2 separate regions of the Homo sapiens genome follow, and region 2 is linked to region 1. Evidence: fine-mapped expression QTL. A gene starts in region 1. The other region holds a variant in brackets. All regions are shown on one strand. Distances are from middle to middle.

Evidence for each region.
Region 2: its variant is fine-mapped to the expression of FCGBP in iPS cells (PhLiPS, PIP 0.95).

What each region holds. Positions count from the first base shown.
Region 1 is chr19:39,929,180-39,940,953 of GRCh38, reverse strand. FCGBP (Fc gamma binding protein) reads left to right here and starts at 6,320. Exons shown (of 36, transcript NM_003890.3): 1 at 6,320-6,390. The coding sequence starts at 6,336.
Region 2 is chr19:39,879,751-39,891,524 of GRCh38, reverse strand. It overlaps FCGBP (Fc gamma binding protein), which reads left to right. Exons shown (of 36, transcript NM_003890.3): 23 at 1,454-2,046; 24 at 4,940-5,534; 25 at 5,653-5,852; 26 at 8,079-8,220; 27 at 11,633-11,774. Among named protein-coding and RNA genes, the nearest start is that of FBL, 39 kb to the right of the region's middle. RefSeq lists an enhancer at 5,307-5,808. The variant G/C (reference allele first, on the strand shown) is at 4,967.

The DNA.
Region 1 (11,774 bases):
TATAATTTAAAAATCATACATAATATGAACAACCAGAAAAATCACAACTTGAATGAGAAAAGCCAATCAACAATCTAACACTGAGATGAAAGATTTTAGAATTATCTGACAAAGATCTAAAGTAGCCATCATAAAAATGTTTCACCAAGCAAGTAGAAATTCCTTGCAAAGATGGGAAAGAAAAGAAAATCTCACCAAAGAAATGGAAAGTATGTTCTTAAAGAATCAAATGAAAATGATAAAACTGAAAAATACAATAACTAAAATAAAAACTCACTGGAAAGGCTCAAGAGCAGAGCAACTATGACAAAGGAAATAAGAAGTGAACTTGAAGATAGAACAATAAAAATTACCCAATCCAAAAAACAGAGAGACAATCAACTTTAAAAAAGAGAAACAGAAAATGACTAACAAGGGCTCAGAGAACCTGCAGGACAATTATAAAATAGCTAACATTTGTATTATCAGATTAACAGAAGGAGAAAAGAAAGTGGGGCTGAAAAATATTTGAAGAATAATGACCAAACCTTCCCAAATTTGGCAAAAGACATAAACCTACAGATGCAAGAAGCTAAACAGAATAAATCTGACGGATTCCATGCCAAAACACAGTATAACTAACTTATGAAAACAAAGGCAAACAATGAAACTATCTTGGAAGCAGCTAGAGAGGAATTATAAATTGTCTATAGGGAACACTGATCAAATGACAAAAAATTTCTTATCAAAAACCATGGAGAAGAAAGCCTGGAGCAATACTCTTCAAGTGCTGAAAGAAAATAACTATCTGCTGAGAATCTTTTTTTTTTTTTTTTTGAGACAGTCTCGCTCTGTCCTCCAGGCTGGAATGCAGTGGTGTGCTTTTGGCTCACTGCAACCTCCACCTCCCAGTGATTCTCCTGCCTCAGCCTCCCAAGTAGCTGGGACTACAGGCGCCCGCCACCATGCCCGGCTAATTTTTGTACTTTTATTAGAGACAGGGTTTCACCATGTTGGCCAGGCTGGTCTGGAACTCCTGACCTTGTGATCTGCCCGCCTCAGCACCCCAAAGTGCTGGGATTACAGGCGTGAGCCACTGTGCCCAGCCGAGAATCTTATATGCAGCAAAACTATCTACGGGGTATGAAGAAGAAATAAAAAGCTTTTAGATGAAGGAAGACTACAAGACTTTGCCGTCAGCAGAATTATTTTTAGAGAATGATTAAAGGAAGTTCTCCAAAGTCCAAATGATTACAGGAAAAGGCTCAGAACTTTAGAAAGGAAGGAAGAACAGCAGAATGGACAAAAATAGTGATAACTATAGCAGATTACCCTTCTCATGAGTTTTTAAAAATCGTAGTTGGTTGAAGCAAAAATTATAGTATTATCTGATGTCTATAGGAAGAGACAATACTTAAAATAGTTATATGTGTATACACACACACGCATATGTATAAGTGGGAGGGTAAAAGGATCTATATGGATGTAAAGTTTCAACACTTCAATCAAAGTGGTAAAATATTCATAAGTTGGATTATAATCAGTTACATATGTATATTGTAGTACTAGAGCAAGTGCTAAGAAAATTCTACAAATTATGTATTCGAAAATAATATGAATCAAAATGGAATGCTAAAAAATGCTCATGTAACTCACAGGAATGCAAGAAAAAATAAGAATGAGAAATGGAACAAATGGAAAATGAATATTAAAATGTTAATCTTAAGTCCAAACATATCAATAACTACTTTAAATGTAAATAGTCTATCTCCTTACATGAAATAAAAGGCCAGAGATTGGTAGAGTGGATTTAAAAAATGATCCAACTAGATACTGTCTCCAAAAAACTTTACTCCAAATATAACAACATAGGTAGGTTGAAAATAAAAGAATAGAAATATATATTAATTTTATTAATTTATGTTATTATAAATATAAATTTTAGGCTGGGTGCAGTGGCTCACCCCTGTAATCCCAGCACTTTGGGAGGCCAAGGCAGATAGATCACTTGAGGTCAGGAGTTCAAGACCAGCCTGGTCAACATGGTGAAACCCCGTATCTACCAAAAATACAAAAATTAGCCAGGCGTGGTCACAGGTGCCTGTAATCCCAGCTACTTGGGAGGCTGAAGCAGGAGAATTGCGTGAACCTGGGAGGCAGAGGCTGCAGTGAGCCGAGATCATGCCCTTGCACTCCAGCTTGGGCAACAGAGCGAGACTCTGTCTAAAAAATAAATAGATAAATAAATAAATAAATATATATATAATTTTAAATATAAATTTTTAAAAGGAAGGAAGTACTATATTAATACGAAAATACTTTCCTTCAGAGCGAAAAACATTGCTAAAAACAAAGGATCATTCTGCCAAGACATTGCAATCCTAAGGTATATGTACCAAACAACAGAGATTCAAGTACATGAAGCAAAAACTGATAGAGCTGAAAGGTGAAATAGACAAGTCCACAAATATAGTTGGAGAATTAAAAACGTCAGTCTCACCAAATTGATAGAACTACCAGGATAAAATATGTGAGAATATCAAAGAACTGAATAACAGCATCAATCAACAGGATCTAATTGATATTTATAGAATGCTCTATTCAACAATAGACAAATCCACAAATACATTTGGGAAATTCAAAGACTTGCTCTTGTTAGCAACAACAACAACAACAAAGAAGTAGTTCTTTCGTTTCATTGATTTTCTCATGTTCAGTTTTATTAATTTCTGCTCTTCATTATTTCCTTTCTTCTGCGTTGTGTTTGTTTTGGTCTTTTACTACTTTATTGTGTAAGAAGAGCTTAGAATATTGGTTTAAGAACTTTCCTCTTTCCTAATGTAAATATTTAATGCCATAAATTTCCCTTTAGCTATATCCCACATATTTTGAAATATCTTCTTTTCATTTTCATTTAATTCTATGTATTTTTGATACTTCCTCTTTGGCCCATGGATTATTTAGAAGTGAGTTGCTCAATATCCTTGTGAGTGGAGATTTTCCTGTTTTTCTGTTATTCATTTCAAGCTGATTCCATTATGGTCAGAGAACATCTCCTATAGAATTTCAATTATTATAGGCAGAGAGGAAGTGTGAATGTCAAATGTTAGAGGGAAGGAACTAGAGGCAAGTGGCAAATAATGGGTCATTGGAGAGTTTAACAAAACGTTCAGTGCTTATGGAAGTCGGATTGTGGGATCCAGAGCGTAAAGGAATTAAGTTAGAAATTGCCCGCAAGCCTGAATTTAGCTGGAGAGAGTAAATTCTCTTCCACTGTGCTCCAGTCTATAAAGCCAAGACTAGTCAGAGGGGCCCAGGGGTCTGGGATGGTATAGCCAGTGCCCATGCTGCAAGGAGACGGAAGCAGATAAGCAGGAAGAGGCCGAAAGGCTCAGGTACACAAATACCCTTGTTTGGGCTCAGAGCAAGGCTGCCAGTGGAGGGATGGATGCGATTTCTCTGACCATAAGGAAGTGTCCCCAGAGTTTATTTCCCGGGTCACCAAAGGGTTTCCTGAGAATTGATATAATACAGGGTAAAGCACAGGGGTGTACACACACACATACACACACACACACACACACACCCACACACACACCCACACACACACCACTTGGGCCTTAAAAGGAGTGAGAAAGAAGACCCAAGGGGATTGGCACATACAGAGTATTAATTTGTGAGATCTCCCACCACAACCACCCCATTTCTGGGGACTCTGGCTGTGGAGAGCGATGATGAATTTTGAAGGCAGGAAGCTTCTTTCTGTGATCAACCAGGGGAAACCCCAAGGCTTAGAGAGAATTGAGGGCCAGAAACACCCATGAAACTCACCCTGATTCTTTCCCTTCACCTCCCATTTGTCTCTGAGTGCCTCTAATTACAAGAGGCATATGGCACACAGAGGATTTTATTTTCTTTTTTCTTTTTCTCCCCAGGCCAGAATGCAGTGGCATGATCACGGCTCGCTGCAGCCTCAGACTCCTAGGATCAAGCAATCCTCCCACCTTAGCCTCCTGAATGGTGGAGACTACAGGTGCATGCCACCACACTCGGTTTATTTTTATATTTTTTGTAGAGAAAGGGTCTCACTATGTTGCCCAGGCTGGTCTTGACCTTGTGGCCTCAAGTGATCCTCCTGCCTCAGCCTCCCAAGTAGCTGGGACTACAAGCGTGCACCACCGTGCCTGGCTAATTTTTGTATTTTTTTGTAGATACAGGGTCTCACTATGTTGGTCTTGAACCAGGCTGGTCTCAAACTCATGGCCTTAAGCAATCCTCCTGCCTCAGCCTCCCAAAATGCTGGAATTATAAGCTGAGCCACTGCGCCTGGCCTCAGACAGAGAATTTTCACATCTTGGTTTGCAATTGCTGTTTCCTCCTAGGAATCCCGACGTCTCCTCCTCCGAGTCCTTCTCTGTCTCAGGGACCCAGCAGCCCCTTCCACCAACTTTTAGACCCCTCAGGGACCCAGGCATCCTTTTCCCAAAGCTTCCACTTCCTGTGGGTCCCCTGCCCCTGCTTGTTTCTTGTTATCTCTGGCTTTTAGCCAGTCTCCTATTTACTCACCTCATTCTCCTGGTTGACTTTATGTCCCAGTCAACTCTTAGCCTTTATCTTTCCCTCCAGGAACGTTTCTTGGGTGGGCGTGGGGATTGGTTGGAGCTCCAGGGAGAGAGAAGCCCCCCACCCGCTCTGGCCTCCCAGAGGCCCAGGCTGCTGTGATAAGAGAGGAGGAGCCCCAGGGGCAGCAGCTGCTAGGGTGTTGGTCCAAGAGAGCACCCAGGCTTTGCAGCTGCTGGTCCCAGGGGAGACTCCCCCAGCAAACAATGAGATCCTGAGTCAGGGAGAAGGCAGGCAGGGCATGGGTCAGGCCAGCCCCTCAGAGGAGCTGACTCCAGCTGAGAAAGCCCAACTTTCAGCTCATTCTTCTGCTCCTTGTGTGCAACCTAGACCTCCACCTCCCATCTCAGGCAAATTCTGGGGTGATGGAGAGGCACAGAGTCCCCTAAACCTGTTCAGCTAGCCCCTGCTAAGAGCAAACCCTCCCTACACACAAAAAAACTCCAAAACCAACAGGTCCTGGCTCTTCCTCAGTCCTCACAGGCTGGGGAGTCCCTGGCCACCTATATCCTGTTTCCAGCACCACTGAGGAGCAGGTGTCTGGGATCAGAAGTAGAATCTGGGTGTCTGTGTGGAACCAGGAAACAGAGGCCATTGTCCCTTCTTCACACACCGCCTCAGTCCCAGTGCCCACCTGCAGCCTGGCCTGCGCCCACACCAGAGGAGGCTGCCCCCCAGCTCTACAGTCCTTGAGAATTTTTTTACATCTCTGGGACGTAAAGATGCCCAGAGAGGCTGGTTTTGGTGTTCCCATTTTGCAGATGAGAAACCGCAGACGCCCCACTGGGCTGCGGTGGAGGTCTTGTGTCCCACTCCATAGCCTCAGACTCCTGCCCATCCCAGACACCTGCCCCTAGTGGTGTCTGGAAGCAGGATGTGGGTGGCTAGGGACTCCCCAGCCTGTGGGGACTGAGAAGGAACCAGGACCCGGATATGGGTCCCTCACTGTTGTTCCTGGCAGGAGCCAAAGGAAGGAACCTAGCCACTAAGCCAGCAAATATGACCACATGCCACCTCCCACCCTCACTGCCCACACCCCCACCCTACCCCACCTCCACCCAGGGACCCAGGTGCTCATCTGCCTGCTCCCCAGCTGTCTCCCTCAGGGACCCCACCCTTCCAGGACCAAACTCTCCAGAAGGCTTCCAGGGAATGGCCACCAGCTGTCCTCACTCCCTTCTTGGAACCCAGGCATCCAGAATCACTGTCCCTCCTTCCCAGGCCTTCACAGTTTCCCATTTCATCTGGCCATGAGGATGGCAGCCTCCTCCAGGAAGTTGGCATCATCTGCCTGGCACGTGGCCCAGGGTGTGGCCCAGAAACTCCACTATATAGCCCTGCCACAGGGCTGGCCCTGCAGCTCCAGGGACCTGCAGGTGAGAAGGGCTGGGGTCCCCTTTGGAAGTGGGACAGCAGGTCCCCTACTCTTGCCCCTGACTGTAGGCCTCCTCATCCTACCCCTAGACCCACAAGACAGCCAACTCTCCACCCCGTCCCTGGCTTCTGCCCTCCCCAACCCACCTCCAGACCCGCTGGACAGCCAGCCTCCCCTATACACACACACTGGTCCTTGGATCCATACCCCCTGGCCCAATCTGCCCGACTTCTTTCCCCACCTCAGCCTTCATGGTCCCAGGTGGCCCTTGTCATGAGAGTGGGCCCTTCTGCCCAGGACAGTCTCCAGCAGAGGCGGTGGATCAGCCTTCTATGATCCTTTCTCTTTTCCTACTGCAGCCATGGGTGCCCTATGGAGCTGGTGGATACTCTGGGCTGGAGCAACCCTCCTGTGGGGTAAGTCAGACCAAGACCCTCTCCATGTCCTTGTTCCAATCTGGGGAACTCTGCGTGGGTCCACGCCTTCCATGTGTGCCTCCTCCACATGTCACCCCAGGCTAGCTGAGACAGGAGAGAGGCCCTTAGGCTCTGCAGGGGGATGTGGTAGAATTCACCAATTCTCACCCTTTTCTGGATGGGAGCACAGGCAAAAACCTTAGTCCCCAAACTCAAGTGTGCAAGAACTTTCTTGGTTTTCTGCAACTCAACTAAGGTTTTGACTCTGAGCCTCATTCTGCTAAGTTGATGGAAAATTTCACGAAAGTCATTCTTGGAGGGTGTTGTCCCCACTTCTCCCAGGGATGTGTCCAGAACTAAAATTTTGGATAAAGCCAAAGTACTGGGGGGAGGATGGGATATGAGGACCCTCTCGTCACCAGTCAGCATCCATCTAGGTTACTTTTGAAATGTCCATTGTTCCTGATCCCCTGGCCCCCTGGGATATCCTTCAAAGCCCCCTTTATATGGAAGGTGGTCATTCCATAGCCCCCACACTCTCTTCAAGATTCCTTAGACCTCTCTCTCCTCAGCCCCAGGGACGCTCTTCCTAGTTGGGGGTGGTCAGAAGCCCCCACTGCCATCTATTTCTAGGAGACAATTCATTCACCCTTCCATAATCCCCTTCTTCTCTTTATCCCCTTTTCACAAACCCCCAAGTCCCATTATTATTATTATTATTATTATTATTATTATTATTATTTGAGATGGAGTTTCACTCTTGTTGCCTAGACTGGAGTGCAATGGTGTGATCTCAGCTAATTGCAACCTCCACCTCCTGGGTTCAAGCGATTCTCCTGCCTCAGCCTCCCTAGTAGCTGGGATTACAGGCGCCCCATGCCACCATGTCCGGCTAATTTTGCATTTTTAGTAGAGATGGAATTTCACCACGTTGGTCAGTCTGCTCATGAACTCCCGACCTCAAGTGATCCACCCGCGTTGGCTTCCCAAAGTGCTGGGATTACAGGCAAGAGCCACCGCGCCTGGCCCCCACAAGTCCTATTAAGACAAAAACCAGCTGGGTACAGTTGGTCACGTCTGTAATCCCAGCACTTCGGGAGGCTGATGCAGGAGGATCACTTGAGCCCAGGAGTTCAAGACCAGCTTGGGCAACAAAGTGAGACCCTGCCTCTAGAAAAAAATTAAAAAATGAGCCAGGCACACAGTGCGTGCCTGTGGTCCCAGCTATACCAGAAGCTGAGACAGGAGGATCCCTTGAGCCCAGGAGGTTGAGGCTGCAGTGTGTTGTGTTTAAGCCACTGCACTCCAGTTTGTAAAAAGATGGAAATCATACACTGGCAGCAGAGTACATCCACCTTGAGCCCCAAAGTGCTTAAAACAATTGTGGGTTGGAGATTTCACATGAAAATTCAGATAGCCACATTCTCTTTAAAAACAGAAAGAACGGCCAGGCGTGGTGGCTTACGCCTGTAATCCCAGCACTTTGGGAGACCGAGGCAGGTGGATCACCTGAGGTCAGGAATTTGAGACCAGCCTGGCCAACAGGGTGAAACCCCATCTCTACTAAAAATACAGAAATTAGCTGGGCGTGGAAACCGGGAGGCAGAGGTTGCAGTGACCCAGGATCGCGCCACTGCACTCCAGCCTGGGTAACAGAGTGAGACTCCATTTCAAAAGAAAAAAAAGAAAAAATACAAAAGTTAACTGTGCCTGGTGGCGCACACCTGTAGTCCCAGTACTCGGGAGGCTGAGGTGGTAGAATCACTCGAACCTGAGAGGCAGAGGTTGTGGTGAGCCGAGATCGTGCCACTGCACTCCAGCCTGGGTGACAGAGCGAGACTCCATCTCAGAAGAAAAAAAAAAAGAAAAACAGGAAGGTCTTACAATTTAAAAAAGCTCACATTCTTTCATTATAACAGGTGAAAGCTAGTACCAACAATCCACTTTTTTTTTTTTTACTAGTTTATATATTTTTAAAATTTTTAATTTTTATGGGTTTGCATTTATGGGGTACCTGTGATATTTTGATACAGGCATACAGTGTGTAATGATAAAATCAGGGTAACTAGGGCATCCCTCACTTCAAGCATTTGTCATTTCTTTGTGTTAGGAACATTCCAATTCCACTCTCAGTTATTTTAAAATATACCATAAATTATCGTCAACAATAGTCATCCTGTTCTGCTACCAAATACTAGATTTTATCTATTTTATCTAACTGTTTAACTGTATTTTTGTACCCATTAACCATATCTACTTATCCCCCAGTCCCCGCTACACTTTCCAGCCTGTGGTAATCATCGTAACCATCATTTTACTCTCTATTTCTATGAGTTCATCAGTTAAAAATTTTAAATTCCCATCTATGAGTGAGAACATGTGAAATTTGTCTTTCTATACTGGCTTATTTCACTTAACATCATGTCCTCCAGTTCCATCCATGTTGTTGCAAATGACAGGATCTCATTCCTTTTTTTTTTTTTTTTTTGAGACCGAGTCTCACTCTGTTGCCCAGGCTGGAGTACAGTGGCGCGATCTTGGCTCACTGCAACCTCCGCCTCCCAGGTTCAAGTGATTCTCGTGCCTCAGCCTCCCGAGTAGCTGGGATTACAGGTACATGCCACCATTCCTGGCTAATTTTTGTAGTTTTGGTAGAGACAGGGTTTCACCATGTTGGCCAGGCTCGTCTTGAACTCCTGACCTCAAGTGATCCACCTGCCTTGGCCTCCCAAAGTGCTGGGATTATAGGTGTGAGCCACTGTGCCGGGTGATCTCATTCTTTTTTATGGTGGATAATTCTCCATTGTTTGTATGTACCAAATTTCCTTTATCCACTCATCTGTTGATGGACACTTAGGTTGATTCCGTATCTTGGCTATTAGGAATAGTGCTGCAATAAACATGGGAGAGCAGATGTCTCTTACATATACTGACTTCCTGACTTGGAAGGAAAGGAATTGCTGGATCATACAGTAGTTCTAGTTTTAGTTTTCTGAGAAACCTTCATATTATTATCGATAGTGATTGTACTGATTTACATTCCCACCAACAGGGTAACAGGGTTCCCTTTTCTCCACATGCTCAGCAGCATTCATTACTGCCTTTCATTAGGATAAAAGCCATTTTAACTCGAGTGAGATGATATCTCACTGTGGTTTTAATTTGTGTTTCTCTGATGATTAGTGATGTTGAGCATTTTTTGATATACCTGCTGGCCATGTGTATGTCTTCTTTGAGAAATGTCTATTCAGATCTTTTGCCCATTTTAAAATCAGATTAATCCGGGCGTGGTGGCTCACGTCTCTAATCCCAGCACTTTGGGAGGCCGAGGCAGGCGGATCACTTGAGGTCAGGAGTTCGAGACCAACCTGGCCAGCATGGGGAAACCCTGTCTCTACTAAAAGTACAAAAATTAGCCGAGCATGGTGGCGCATGCCTGTAATCCCAGCTACTTGGAAGGCTGAGGCAAGAGAATCACTTGAACCCAGGAGGCGGAGGTTGCAGTTAGCTGAGATCGTGCCACTGCAGTCCGGCCTGGGGTGACAGAGTAAGACCCCATCTCAAACACACACACATACACACACACACACACACACACACACACACAAATCAGATTATTTGATTTTTTTCCTATTGAGTTGTTTGAGCTCCTTTTATATTCTGGTTATTAATCCCTTGTCAGTACCATCTAGAAATGCTACTGATTTTTGTATGTTGATTTTGTATCCTGCAAATTTAGTGAATTTGTTTATCAGTTCTAATAGCTTTTTGATGGCGTCTTTAGGTTTTTTTTAAATATCAGATTATATCATCTGCAAACAAGGATAATTTGACTTCTTTTTTTTTTTTTTCCAGTTTGGATGCCTTTATTTCTTTCTCTTGTCTAATTGCTTTAGCTAAGATGGGTTGTATATATTTTCTCTTATTCTGTCAGTTGTGTCTTCACTTTGTGGATTGTTTCCTTTGCTGAGCAGAAGCTTTTTAGGTTGATGTGATCCCATTTGTCCATTTTTCTTTGGTTGCCTGTGCTTTTGATGTATTACTTAATAAATTTTTGCCCAGACTAATGAACTGGAGAGTTTCCCAAATGTCTTCTTGTAGTAGTTTCGTAGTCTGAGGTCTTAGATTTAAGTCTTTAATCCATTCTGATTTGATTTTTGTATGTGGTGAGAGATAGGGGTCTAGTTTCACTCTTTGCATATGGATATCCAGTTTTCCCAGTACCATTTATCTTCAATAAATGCAATGTATGTTCTTGGGATCTTTGTCAAAAATGAATTCACTGTAGGTGGGTGGATTTGTTTCTGGGTTCTATGTTCTGTTCCACTGGTCCATGTGTTTGTTTTTATGCCAGTACCACACTGTTTTGGTTATTATAGTTTTGTAGTATAATGTGAAGTCAGGTAATGTGATTCCTCCAGTTTTGTTCTTTATGCTCAGGATGGCGTTAGCTATTCTGGGTATTTTGTGTTTCCACACAAATTTTGGGATTAGTCTTCTATTTCTGTGAAGAATGTCACTGGTATTTTTATAGAGATTGCATTGAATCGGTAGATTGCTTTGGTTAGTATGGACATTTTAACAATATTGTGTCTTCCAATCCATGAACATGGAATATCTTTCCATTTTTTTTGGTGTGTGTCCTCCTCCATTTCTTTCATTACTGTTTTATAGTTTTCATTGTAGAGATCTTTCATTTCTTTCGTTTATTCCTAGGTGTTTTATTTTATTTGTGGCTATTGTAAATGGGATTACTTTCCTTTTTTTTTTTCAGATTGTTTGCTGTAAGCATATAGAAATGCTACTGATTTTTGTATGTTGATTTTGTATCCTGCAAGTTTAGTGAATTTGTTTATCAGTTCTAATAGCTTCTTGATGAAGTCTTTAGGTTTTCTGTTTTTTTTGTTTTGTTTTTTGTTTTTTGTTTTTTGAGATGGAGTTTTGCTCTCGTTGCCCAGGCTGGAGTGCAATGGTGCCATCTCAGCTCGGTGCCATCTCAGCTCACTACCATCTCTGCCTCCCAGGTTCAAGCGATTCTCCTGCCTCAACCTCCCGAGTAGCTGGGATTACAGGTGTCTGCCACCATGCCAGGCTAATTATTTTTTTGTATTTTTAATAGAGACAGGTTTTACCACGTTGGTCAGGATGGTCTCAATCTCTTGACCTCTTCATCTGTGCAGCTCAGCCTCCCAAAGTGGTGGGATTACAGGCTTGAGCCACTGCACCCAGCCAAAGTTGTTTTTTTTTTTGAGACAGAGTCTTGCTCTGTCATCCAGGCTGGAGTGTGGTGGTGTGATCTTGGCTCACTGCAACCTCCACCTCCTGGGTTCAAGAGATTCTCTTGCCCCAGCCTCCCGAGTAGCTGGGACTACAGGCATGTGCAA
Region 2 (11,774 bases), 49 kb after region 1:
TCGGTATCTACTGTCAGGAAACACCTTGGCACTGACACACTGAAATGCCCCAAGTCAGGTACTGCAGTGAGAGAGAGTCAGTTAGAAACACCTAGTCAGAGTGTGGGCGCGGTGGCTCACGCCTGTAATCCCAGCAATTTGGGAGGCCGAGGCGGGCGGATCACCTGAGGTCAGGAGGTCGAGACTAGCCCGGCCAACATGGTGAAACCCCACCTCTACTAAAACTACAAAAATTATCCGGGCGTGGTGGCGGGCACCTGTAATCTCAGCTACTCAGGAGGCTGAGGCAGGAGAATCACTTGAACCCAGGAGGCAGAGGTTGCAGTGAGCCGAGATCGTGCCACTGCCCTTCAGCCTGGGTGACAGAGATTCCATCTCCAAAACAAAAAACAAACAAACAACAAACAACAGAAAAAAAAAAAGAAAGAAAAGAAACCTGGGGTCCAGGACACTCTTAGGGATTGGTGATCCATGCTTTCAGGTATCCAAGGCATGTAGATTGGGATGGCTGACCCTGCCTCTGTCACATAGCAAAGTACCCCTTGTTAGGAAGACCTAGTGAGTTTCAGCTGGTCAGAGGGCCCAGGTCTGTTGCACACACTGAAATACACCTAGTCACATGGAATTAGTCGCATACCTTCAGTGATATCTGCTTAAATTTTATACTGACTGGTCAGATACACTCAGAAAGAAACAGGATCCTGGCATAGCCTTGGGCAGATCCACACAGATGCATAGTTAGATAGTCCTAGGCGGTTCCCTTCAGGCAGGTCTCCTGGTCACAGGTATCCTGCCAACTTCACCCAGGCACAGCCTTAGGCAGACCATGTCAGAAGGACTCTGGGAGATGCTGCATGTCAGACACCCACAGCTGGGTGCCCTCAGGCAGAGCCATACCCTGAGATACATGTGGCCCCACACCCCAGTCACATTCACACGCTGAGATGCCCATAGTCAGTTCTGATCCTGCATACCCCGAATAGATATAAGTGATCCATTTCACCCAGGTAAGCCTGGCTTACATAGTGAGACCCCATCTCTACAGAAAATAATAATAAATCAGCCAGATGTGGTGGCTTACTCCTGTAGTCCCAGCTAATCGGGAGGCTGAGGCCAGAGGATTGCTTGAGGTTTAGGTGGAGGCTGCAGCGAGCTGTGATTGCGCCTCTGCACTCCAGCCTGGGTGAGATAGAGTGAGAGCCTGTCTCAAAAAAAAAAAAAAAAAAAATATCAGCCAAGCAGAGTCATTTGATCTTCAGAAATATTTGGTCAGAGAGACCTGGGCATGTCCCCTCCCATTCCAGGTCCCACGCTGAGTCCCCCAGTTAGATGTCCTGGATCACATGTGCATGCCCAGAGACGCCCAAGTTGGCCTGAGCAGTTTTCCCACTCAGGGCCTCCCAAGACTGCGACTCAAACACCTACCTGGCTGATGCCCACCTTGTCCCCACAGCCTTCCAGTGCCCTGCCCACAGCCACTACGAGCTCTGCGGTGACTCCTGTCCTGGGAGCTGCCCGAGCCTGTCGGCACCCGAGGGCTGTGAGTCGGCCTGCCGTGAAGGCTGTGTCTGCGATGCTGGCTTCGTGCTCAGTGGTGACACGTGTGTACCTGTGGGCCAGTGTGGCTGCCTCCACGATGACCGCTACTACCCACTGGGCCAGACCTTCTACCCTGGCCCTGGGTGTGATTCCCTTTGCCGCTGCCGGGAGGGCGGTGAGGTGTCCTGTGAGCCCTCCAGCTGCGGCCCGCATGAGACCTGCCGGCCATCCGGTGGCAGCTTGGGCTGCGTGGCCGTGGGCTCTACCACCTGCCAGGCGTCGGGAGATCCCCACTACACCACCTTCGATGGCCACCGCTTCGACTTCATGGGCACCTGCGTGTATGTGCTGGCTCAGACCTGCGGCACCCGGCCTGGCCTGCATCGGTTTGCCGTCCTGCAGGAGAACGTGGCCTGGGGTAATGGGCGAGTCAGTGTGACCAGGGTGATCACGGTCCAGGTGGCAAACTTCACCCTGCGGCTGGAGCAGAGACAGTGGAAGGTCACGGTGAGAGCAGATGGGGAGCAGGGGGCGAGGGGCCTGTGGGTAGGTGGGGCACAGGCAGCGCTCAGCCCAGGAGTTGGGGGCACAAGAGATGAGAGTGCATGTGCGAGGCCTGGGGTCTCTGAGGACAGAAGATGCCAGTCAGAACCGAGTGGGAAGCCAATGAGGGAGGTGTCATCAGGGACTTGGGAGCTGCTCCCCCATCTCTGTCCCTCAGTCTCCACCCTCTCTTTACCTCCATGCATTGACTTTTCTCTCCAAATTTCTCCCACCCTCTCCTCCCTCCCACTCCATCCTCTCTCCACCTCAGTCCTGGATTCTGCCCTACTCACCTCCCTAGTCTGCCACTTATTGGCAGGACGTGGTGCCATCAGAGGTTGAGAAAGTCCGAGTTTGAGAAGCTTCATGGACAGAGGACAATCTGTGGGTGACACTCTCACCGCCTTAACAACAACAACAGCAGCTATAGTTTCTATACAGCTGACTGCACACCTTTTGGCTGCCAGGCACTTCACGTCCATGGTGTCTGTATGCTTGCAACAGGGACTGCAGGCACTATGACTTGCTTTATTTTTCAGAGTGGGATGGCCCATCACTGGCCCATAGTCCCCCAGCAAAGGTGGAGCTTGAACCCCGTGCTGCTCTGCAGTGCTTTTCTTACTGAGAAGATTTGGTCTCATGTGGAGACTGGCATCTGAGTTACAGTGGAGGGGTTTCCCCTGAGATCCCACTGAAACAGACACGCAGCTGTTTTTCTAGTGGCAGTATTGGCGAAGGTGCTGATCAATTACTGACTTAATCTGGCGAACTGGACAGGCGTGACTTTTTTTTTTTTTTTTTTGGCACAGAGTCTGGCTTTGTCACCCAGGCTGGAGTGCAGTGGCGCGATCTCGGCTCACTGCAACCTCTGCCTCCCTGGTTCAAGTGATTCTCCTGCCTCAGCCTCCAGAGTAGCTGGGATTACAGGTGTGCAACACTATGCCCAGGAAATTTTTGTATTTTTAGTGGGGACGGGTTTCACCATGTTGGCCAGTCTGGTCTCCAACTCCTGAGCTCAGTGATCTGCCGGCCTCAGCCTCCCAAAGTGCTGGGAATAGAGGCATGAGCCACTGTGCCCGGCCGACATGCAGGACTTAATTGAATATATTCCCTAATGTTTCCCAAGCTCCTAGAATAGCCCCTGACATACAGCGCCTAAATACACAGGAGTTGTTGATGTTCTTGTTAGTTGCTTCTTACTGAAACCCCCAGCTTCCCTACAGATGTGGGAGCTCTTATTACCCCGCAGTTTACAGCTGAGGAAACTGAGGCAAGGCTAAGTCAGTTGCCCTTACCCACCGCCCAGCCCTGCTTGGGAAGTGTGGCAGTTGACCATCTTTTTAGGAGACTCAGCCAGGAGCATGTCTTTCTCCTGCCTTCTCCTCTGATTCTTCACATTTCCAAAAGAATCCGGTGTGCACTGTCTGTGATAAGGAAGGGTAAGAAAGCATGTTAATCAGGGGTTGATGTATTTATTTATTTTTTAGAGACAGGGTCTTGCTCTATCACCAAGGCTGGAGTGCAGTGGTGTGATCCTAGCTCACTGCAGCCTCAAACTCCTGCTCTCAAGCAATCCTACCACTTCAGCCTCCTGAGTGGCTGGGAGTACAGGCATGCACCACCATGCCCAGTTAATTTGTTTTCTTTTTTATTTTGTAGAGACAGGATCTCGATATATTGCTTAGGCTGACCTTGAACTCCTGGGCTCAAGTGATCTTCCCGCCTTGGCCTCTCAAAGTGCTGGGATTATAGACATGAGCCACTGTGCCCTGTCCAGGGGTGGATTTACCAGGCTTTGTTGGAGCCTAGTAAATCTTTAACTGAAACCACTGGTCCTCAGCTCATAGGTTTAAGTTCATTTCCCCAAGAATTTAGCCTAACTTTCCACTCGCTGATGCTTTAAAGCAAAAACCTGTGGTTCTGTTTACTCTTCAGAAGAAAAACTTCCACTCATAGCTGCTAATAACAGCAAATGCTCCTGAAGCATGCATGCTATGCCAGCCACGTTTCTCAGCACTTTACAGATACTAATTTATGTGATCCTGACAACAGTTCCATGGGGCAAACGCCTTATTCCCACTTGATAGATGAGGAAACAGAAACAGGGAGAGGTGACTCACTTGCCCAAGGTCACAAAGAGGGTAAGGGGGAAACTGTTTGAACTCGGGCAAGTGGCTCCGGGGGCGATCATTGCTTATTAATGGCTGCAGCAAGCGGTAAACAAAGGATAGCTGGAGGCTTGTTACTTCATCGAGACCTGTATTCGTTTCCCATGGCTGCCATAACAAATTACCACGAGCTTGGTGGCTTAAAACACTAGAAATGTATGTTCCACAGTCCTGGGTGCCAGAAGTTCAACATCAAGGTGTGGGCAGGGCTGCACCCCCTCCAAAGACACTGGTTGGGGGATCTTCCTTTCCCTTTCCAGCTCTGCAGACTCCAGGTTCTCTGGGCTTGTGACAACACCATTCTAATCCCTGCCTTCATCTTCATGTGGCCTTTTCTGTGTGTCTCTTTGCCTTTTTCTTTCTGGCTCTTATAAGGATACTAGTCATTGGATTTAAGGCCCAATTTAATCCAGGATAATCTCATGTTGAGATTATTACCCTGATTACATCTGCAAAGAACTTTATTCCGAGTAAGCTCACGCTATGGGATTCTGTGTGAATATGTCTTTTGGGGACCACCATTCAATCTACTATCAGGCCCTGTTATTATATCCATTTAATAAATAGGAAACTGAGGGCCTAAGAGGTGAGGTCACAAAGATCAGCATCAGGCATGGGCTTGAACTAGGGTCCCACCCTCACTCAAAGTATACTTTCTGAAGCGTGGCCTGCCTCTCTTCCCCTCCCAGGTGAACGGTGTGGACATGAAGCTGCCC[G/C]TGGTGCTGGCCAACGGCCAGATCCGTGCCTCCCAGCATGGTTCAGATGTTGTGATTGAGACCGACTTCGGCCTGCGTGTGGCCTACGACCTTGTGTACTATGTGCGGGTCACCGTCCCTGGAAACTACTACCAGCTGATGTGTGGCCTGTGTGGGAACTACAACGGCGACCCCAAGGATGACTTCCAGAAGCCCAATGGCTCGCAGGCAGGCAACGCCAATGAGTTCGGCAACTCCTGGGAGGAGGTGGTGCCCGACTCTCCCTGCCTGCCGCCGCCCACCTGCCCGCCGGGGAGCGCGGGCTGTATCCCCAGCGACAAGTGTCCTCCCGAGCTGGAGAAGAAGTATCAGAAGGAGGAGTTCTGTGGGCTCCTCTCCAGCCCCACAGGGCCACTGTCCTCCTGCCACAAGCTGGTGGATCCCCAGGGTCCCTTGAAAGATTGCATCTTTGATCTCTGCCTGGGTGGTGGGAACCTGAGCATTCTCTGCAGCAACATCCATGCCTACGTGAGTGCTTGCCAGGCGGCTGGAGGCCACGTGGAGCCCTGGAGGAATGAAACTTTCTGTCGTGAGTGAGGGAGAGCCGGAGGGGCAGGGAGGGGAGAGCTTGAGGCACAGAAGGGGTAGACCCTGGGCTTTGCAGCCCCTCCCTCCCCAGGGCTCTGATCGGCACCCCCTCCTTGCAGCCATGGAATGCCCTCAGAACAGTCACTACGAGCTCTGTGCGGACACCTGCTCCCTGGGCTGCTCGGCTCTCAGTGCCCCTCTGCAGTGCCCAGATGGGTGTGCTGAGGGCTGCCAGTGTGACTCCGGCTTCCTCTACAACGGCCAAGCCTGCGTGCCCATCCAGCAATGTGGCTGCTACCACAATGGTGTCTACTATGAGGTAGGAACCTAGTCATCTGGGGCAGAATATGGGGTCTCACCCCTCCCACTGTTCATCAGCCCCACGGCCTGTCTACTTAGCCTCTTATTTATTTCTTTTAGAGTCAGGGTCTCACTCTTGTCACCCAGGCTGGAGTGCAGTGGTACCATCATAGTTCACTGCAGCCCCAAATTCCTTGGCTCAAGCAATCCTTCACCTCACCTCCCAAGTACCTGGGACTATAGGTGCGCACCACCAAGCCCAGCGAATTTTTAATTTTCCTGTGGACACATAGAGATGGGGGCGTCTCACTATGTTGCTCAGGCTGGTCGTGAACTCCAGGCCTCAAGCCATCGTCCCGCCTTGGCCACCCAAAGTGCTGGGATTAATGGCATGAGCCACCATGCCCGACCCACTGAGCCTCTTTTTTTTTTTTTTTTAAAGATATAGTCTTGCTCTGTTGCCCAGGCTGGAGTGCAACCTCCGCCTCTCGGGTTCAAGCTCACTGCAACCTCAGCATCCCAGGTTGAAGCAATTCTCTTGTCTCGGCCTCCCGAGTAGCTAGGAGTACAGGCACGTGCCACCACACACGGTTAATTTTTTTGTATTTTGGTAGAGGTGGAGTTTTGCCATATTGGCCAGGCTGCTCTCGAACTCCTGACTTCAAGTGATCCTCCTGCCTTGGCCTCCCAAAGTGCGAGCATTACAGGCGGGAGCCACCACAGCTAGTCCACTCAGTCTCTTCAGTGTCTCTTGTACCCACTCCTTTCCCCGTCCCCATGGCCCTCCCTTGGTCCAGCTGGTCCTCTCCTACCTGGGTCCCTCCCAGCTCCTACCTCTGCTCCCTCTGGTCCACCCTCCACGTGGCAGTGGTAAAGATCTTTCTAAATATGACCACGGGCTCTGAAGCTTTAAACCCTCCCCTGACTCCCCAGGTCAAGTTGTGGCTTTGCCTTCCAGGTCTGGACGAAGGGAGCCTTTCTGACCACAAAGACAAGATTTCCATGTGTTATACCAGCTGCTAACACCCTCTACTTCCCTCTCCCACTCTGTCCCCGTAGGTCCTTTTTCTTTGACTGGAGCATGTGTTTGTCTAATGTCCATCTCCCTTGGGGACTGTGAGCTCTCCTAGGGGTGGAACCCTCTCTCTGTTGTTCTCCTCACATAAATAATATTAATAATAACAGAAAATGTGTAGATAGTGCTTACTATGTATCTGGTACCGTTTTAAGTGCTATGTGTGCATATTTTTATATATGCATTACATATCTAAAAACTTTTTATTCTGAAAACGTTCAAACATGCAAAAATTAAGAGAATAGTGGAATGACTGTCCATGTACTTACCCATCACTTAGCTTCAAAAATAAGCCATATTCTCCCGATCTTGTTTGATGTCTACCCCACGTATCTCTCCTATCTGAATGTTTTAAAGGAAACCCTTTTCTGTTTTTGTTTTTGTTTTTCCTTGAGATGGGGTCTCGCTCTGTCACTCAGGCTGGAGTGCAGTGGCGCAGTTTTGCCTCACTGCAAGCTCCGCCTCCCGAGTTCACACCATTCTCCTGCCTCAGCCTCCCGAGTAGCTGGGACTATAGGCGCCCGCCACCACGCCCGACTAATTTTTTGTATTTTTAGTAGAGACGGGGTTTCACCGTGTTAGCCAGGATGGTCTCAATCTTCTGACCTCGTGATCCACCCGCCTCGGCTTCCCAAAGTGCTGGGATTACAAGCATGTGCCACCGCGCCCGGCCTACCCTTTTCATTTTATCTAAATTTTACATGTCTGAATATAACTTGGTTATTATCTGAATATAACTTGGTTATTATCTGAATATAACTCAGTTATATTTCCAAAGGCAGGCGCTACTATCATCTGCAATCTGCAGATCATGAAACTGAGCCATAAAGAGGTGAAGTAACTGCCCAGAGTCACACACTTTGGAAACAGCAGAAACGGGCTTCAAGCCCAGGCGATCTGCCCTTAGTTACTGTGTCACACCATTTCTCCTACAGCAGACGTTGAGTGGATATTTTGGAATGAATGAGTAAATGAAGAAAAGTGAATGAACCAATGAATGATGGCCCCAAAGCCATGCTGTGCCTCAGCTTCACAGACAAGGGGCCATCCTGCTGAGAGATGTCCCTTGTCTGTGATGTCTGCCAAACCCCTCTGTGCCAGAACGCCAGAGATGTGAGAGTCGGCTCCCACCCGTGGTGTCCCTGATGGCCGTTCCCTCTCTCCCCACAGCCGGAGCAGACAGTCCTCATTGACAACTGTCGGCAGCAGTGCACGTGCCATGTGGGTAAAGTCGTGGTGTGCCAGGAACACAGCTGCAAGCCGGGGCAGGTGTGCCAGCCCTCCGGAGGCATCCTGAGCTGCGTCACCAAAGGTGCTGGGCTGGGCTGGGCTGGGACTGGGGCTGATGGGACTAGGGATGGAGGATGGGGACTCTGGGGCTGAGGGTAGTGTAACTGGGGTGTCCATGGCGGGAGGTGTACAGGACTAATGATTGAGGTTGCAGACCTGGGGAACCCTAGACCAGGTTTCACAGGGCCAGGGCCACCTACTTTGGGAGGTAGGGACCCTTAGGGAAAATCCAGGCTGTGGGGACCCTCAGAGATAGTTTTCTCAGGGTGGATGTCAGAGACCCTCGGTATAAGGCAGGGACAGGCGCGCCTTTGCTCTAATGTGCTACATGGTAAATGTTTAAGCTCGCAGGCTGTAGGTTCTCGTTCCAGCTACTCACTCTGCCACTGTGGCATGAAAGCAGCCGTAGACTATGTAAGTGAAGAGGTCAGGTTCCTATAAGACTTTAGAATACAAGAGCAGCAGCCTAGGGTTCCATCATGAGCGGAACACTGATGTGTGGGATCGGGCTTGGGGTTCAGACACTAGCACCAAAGGGCAGGGGAGAGATTGGGATCCCAGGGGCAGGGACAGAGAGCAGAGTTCTGAGTCTCACGCACGGAGACCTCACCAAGGCAGGACATTGGATATGGGGACCCCTCTTAACTGGAAGATCAGGATTTCTAGGGGTATAGTCTCTGATGTGGGAATCCCCCAGACTAAATCTGGGACACAGCCACCCCCAGGGCTCATTTCTTAGGGTGAAGAGCAGAGAACTCTCCTCCCCCTAAGGATAAGAGAATGGGAGCTCCAGCACCAAGGAGTGGGGGCTAAGACTCTCAGGGCTGATGAGCAGGATAATGGGGACTCCCAGGAATGGGGGGTATATCACTCAGCATCTAGTCGAGAGACAGAAAGCGTATGGCCATTTGAATGAGGAAAGTTTAATTAAAGAATCACTTACTTATTAATAGGAGATTAACTATTAAGGGTAAAGAGGGTCTGGTGCCGTGGCTCACACACCCAGAACTTTGGGAGGATCACTTGAGGCCAGGAGTTCGAGACCAGCCTGGGCAACATAGCGAGACCCCTGTCTCCACAAAAAATTGAAAATTAGCCAGGTGTGGTGATGCGTGCCTGTGGTCCCAGCTATTTAGGATGCTGAGGTAGGAGGATCAGTTGACCCCAGGATTTCGAGGCTGCAGTGAGCTATATGATTGCACCACTGCTCTCTAGCGTGGGCAAGACAGCAAGACCTTGTCTCTTTACAAACAAACAAATAAACAGAAATAAGAAACGGTAAAGAGAGCACTAAAGAATACCACCAAAGCACACACAGGAAGTAGCCGCCACTCTAGGGCTAAGTTAAAAGCCTCATGGAAGGGAGAAATTGGTCCCTCCTCTTCAAGGAGGGGAGAATCAGCCCCAAGGCTGAGTCCAGTCTCACTGCAGCTGTAGCCCACTGGGTGGCACAGAGGTTTCTGCAGGCTGGACTTGGCAAGAAGGGAACCCCTCACTGGGAAGCCAGCTGCGGCCAGTGGCACTCGCTGAATGTGGCCCCGCACCCTGGCCAGAGCTGAAAGGACCAAACTGGCTAGAAGCCAGACCCGGAGACCCTCCCTCCTGCAGTGACTCTCCGGCGCCCTCTGTTGACAAAGCTTAACTCCGTGGGTGTATTTGAAGCTGAGAGGCGGTACATTGATAATGGACACAGGAGGAAGGAGACGTTTGAAGGCTGGCCTCTCCCACACAGGGGTTCCGCAAGCTGGGGTCACAGATGTAGTAACTGTACGAACAGGGTCTCGGACACAGAAACCCCCCAGGACAGGGCCTCAGCAGTGAGACACGATGAAGGCTACTGTCTTGAATACAGCAACCCTCAGGGATGGAGTCTTGCACTGAGGGAGCCCAGCCCATGAGACTTAGCTAGTTAGGGTCTCAAACATTTCAAATCCTGCTGAGACCCTGGCACTGGGCTCTTGCCAGAAGATCACCCCAGGGCCCTAGTCTTGGGCATAGAGGCCTCCAGGACCTAGAGAAATTGGAGACCAATTTCTATCAAATGTGGAGATGTCCAGGGGGCTGAGGTCTCAGGCATGGGGGACCCTGAGACCTAGATCTTTTTTTTTTTTTTGAGCTAAGGTCTCACTCTGTGGCCCAGGCTAGAGTGTAGTGTAGCTTACTGCAGCCTCGATTTCCTGGGCTCAAACAATCCTCCCGCCTCAGCCTCCCGAGTAGTGGGGGACTACAGGCACACACCACCACGCCTGGCTAATTTATTAATCTTTCTGTAGAAATGGGGTCTTACTATGTTGCCCAGGCTAGTCTCAAACTCCAGGGCTCAAGCTATCCTCCCACCTCAGCCTCTTAAAGTGCTGGGATTACAGGCCTGAGCCACCACACCTGGCCTGGGGCCCAGGTCTTGAACACAGAGAACCCTGGGGCTGGGATCTCAGACATGGATGCTCTCAGGGCTGGCATCGCAGACACAAGGACCCCTGGGGCACAGATCTCAACTGGGGTCAAGTGCACCTTTTCTCTAAAGGGCTAGATGGTAAGTGTTTAAGCTTGCAGGCTATACCTTCTGGATCACAACTACTCACTCTGCCACTGTGGTGTGAAAGCAGCCGTAGCCTATGTAAGTGAAGACGGTGAGGTTCCTATAAAACTTAAAATACAAGAACAGGGTGAAATCTCAAGCAAGGGCACCATGGAAAGTGCACCTTAAACACAGACCCAGAGCCTTGGTCTTTGCCTTGGTCTTAGGTGCGTGGACTCCAGGATCTCAGTCTCACACAGCAAATGGCAGGGCCTCAGTCTCAGAGGTAGGGGAACTCTAGGTACTGGGTCTTGGCTGTACAGACCTCTGGGGCCCAGGTCTCCGGTATGGGACCTTTGACAGCCGAGACTTAGACACAGTCCCCCATGGGGCCTCAGTGTCAGCTGTGTGCGACTCCCAGGGGCTGGTCTTGAAAATAGCAGGCTGGGCATGATGGCTCATGCCTGTAATCCCAACACTCTGGGAGGCCAAGGTTGGCTGATCACTTGATGTCAGGAGCCCGAGACCAGCCTGGCCAACATGGTGAAACCCTGTCTCTACTAAAAATACAAAAATCAGCCAAGCATGCTGGTGGGCACCTATAATCCCAGCCACTCAGGAGGCTGAGTCAGGAGAATCACTGGAGCCCAGGAGGCAGAGGTTGCAGTGAGCCGAGATTGTACCATTGCTCTCCAGCCTGGGTGACAGAGAAAGACTCCATCTCAAAAAAACAACAAAACAAAAGAAAATATAAAAGCAAACTATAGGAAGTGGGTCCTAGACATGAGGACTCTGGAATGTGGTCTTGCCTGCAGTAACCCTCAGATCCCTGGCACAGACTGGGTAGATATGGAGGGAGCGGCCATGCTTTACAATGGGCAGCCCCTCAAGGTCCTCCTCCCTCTTCTGTCCCCAGACCCGTGCCACGGCGTGACATGCCGGCCACAGGAGACATGCAAGGAGCAGGGTGGCCAGGGCGTGTGCCTGCCCAACTATGAGGCCACGTGCTGGCTGTGGGGCGACCCACACTACCACTCCTTCGATGGCCGGAAGTTTGA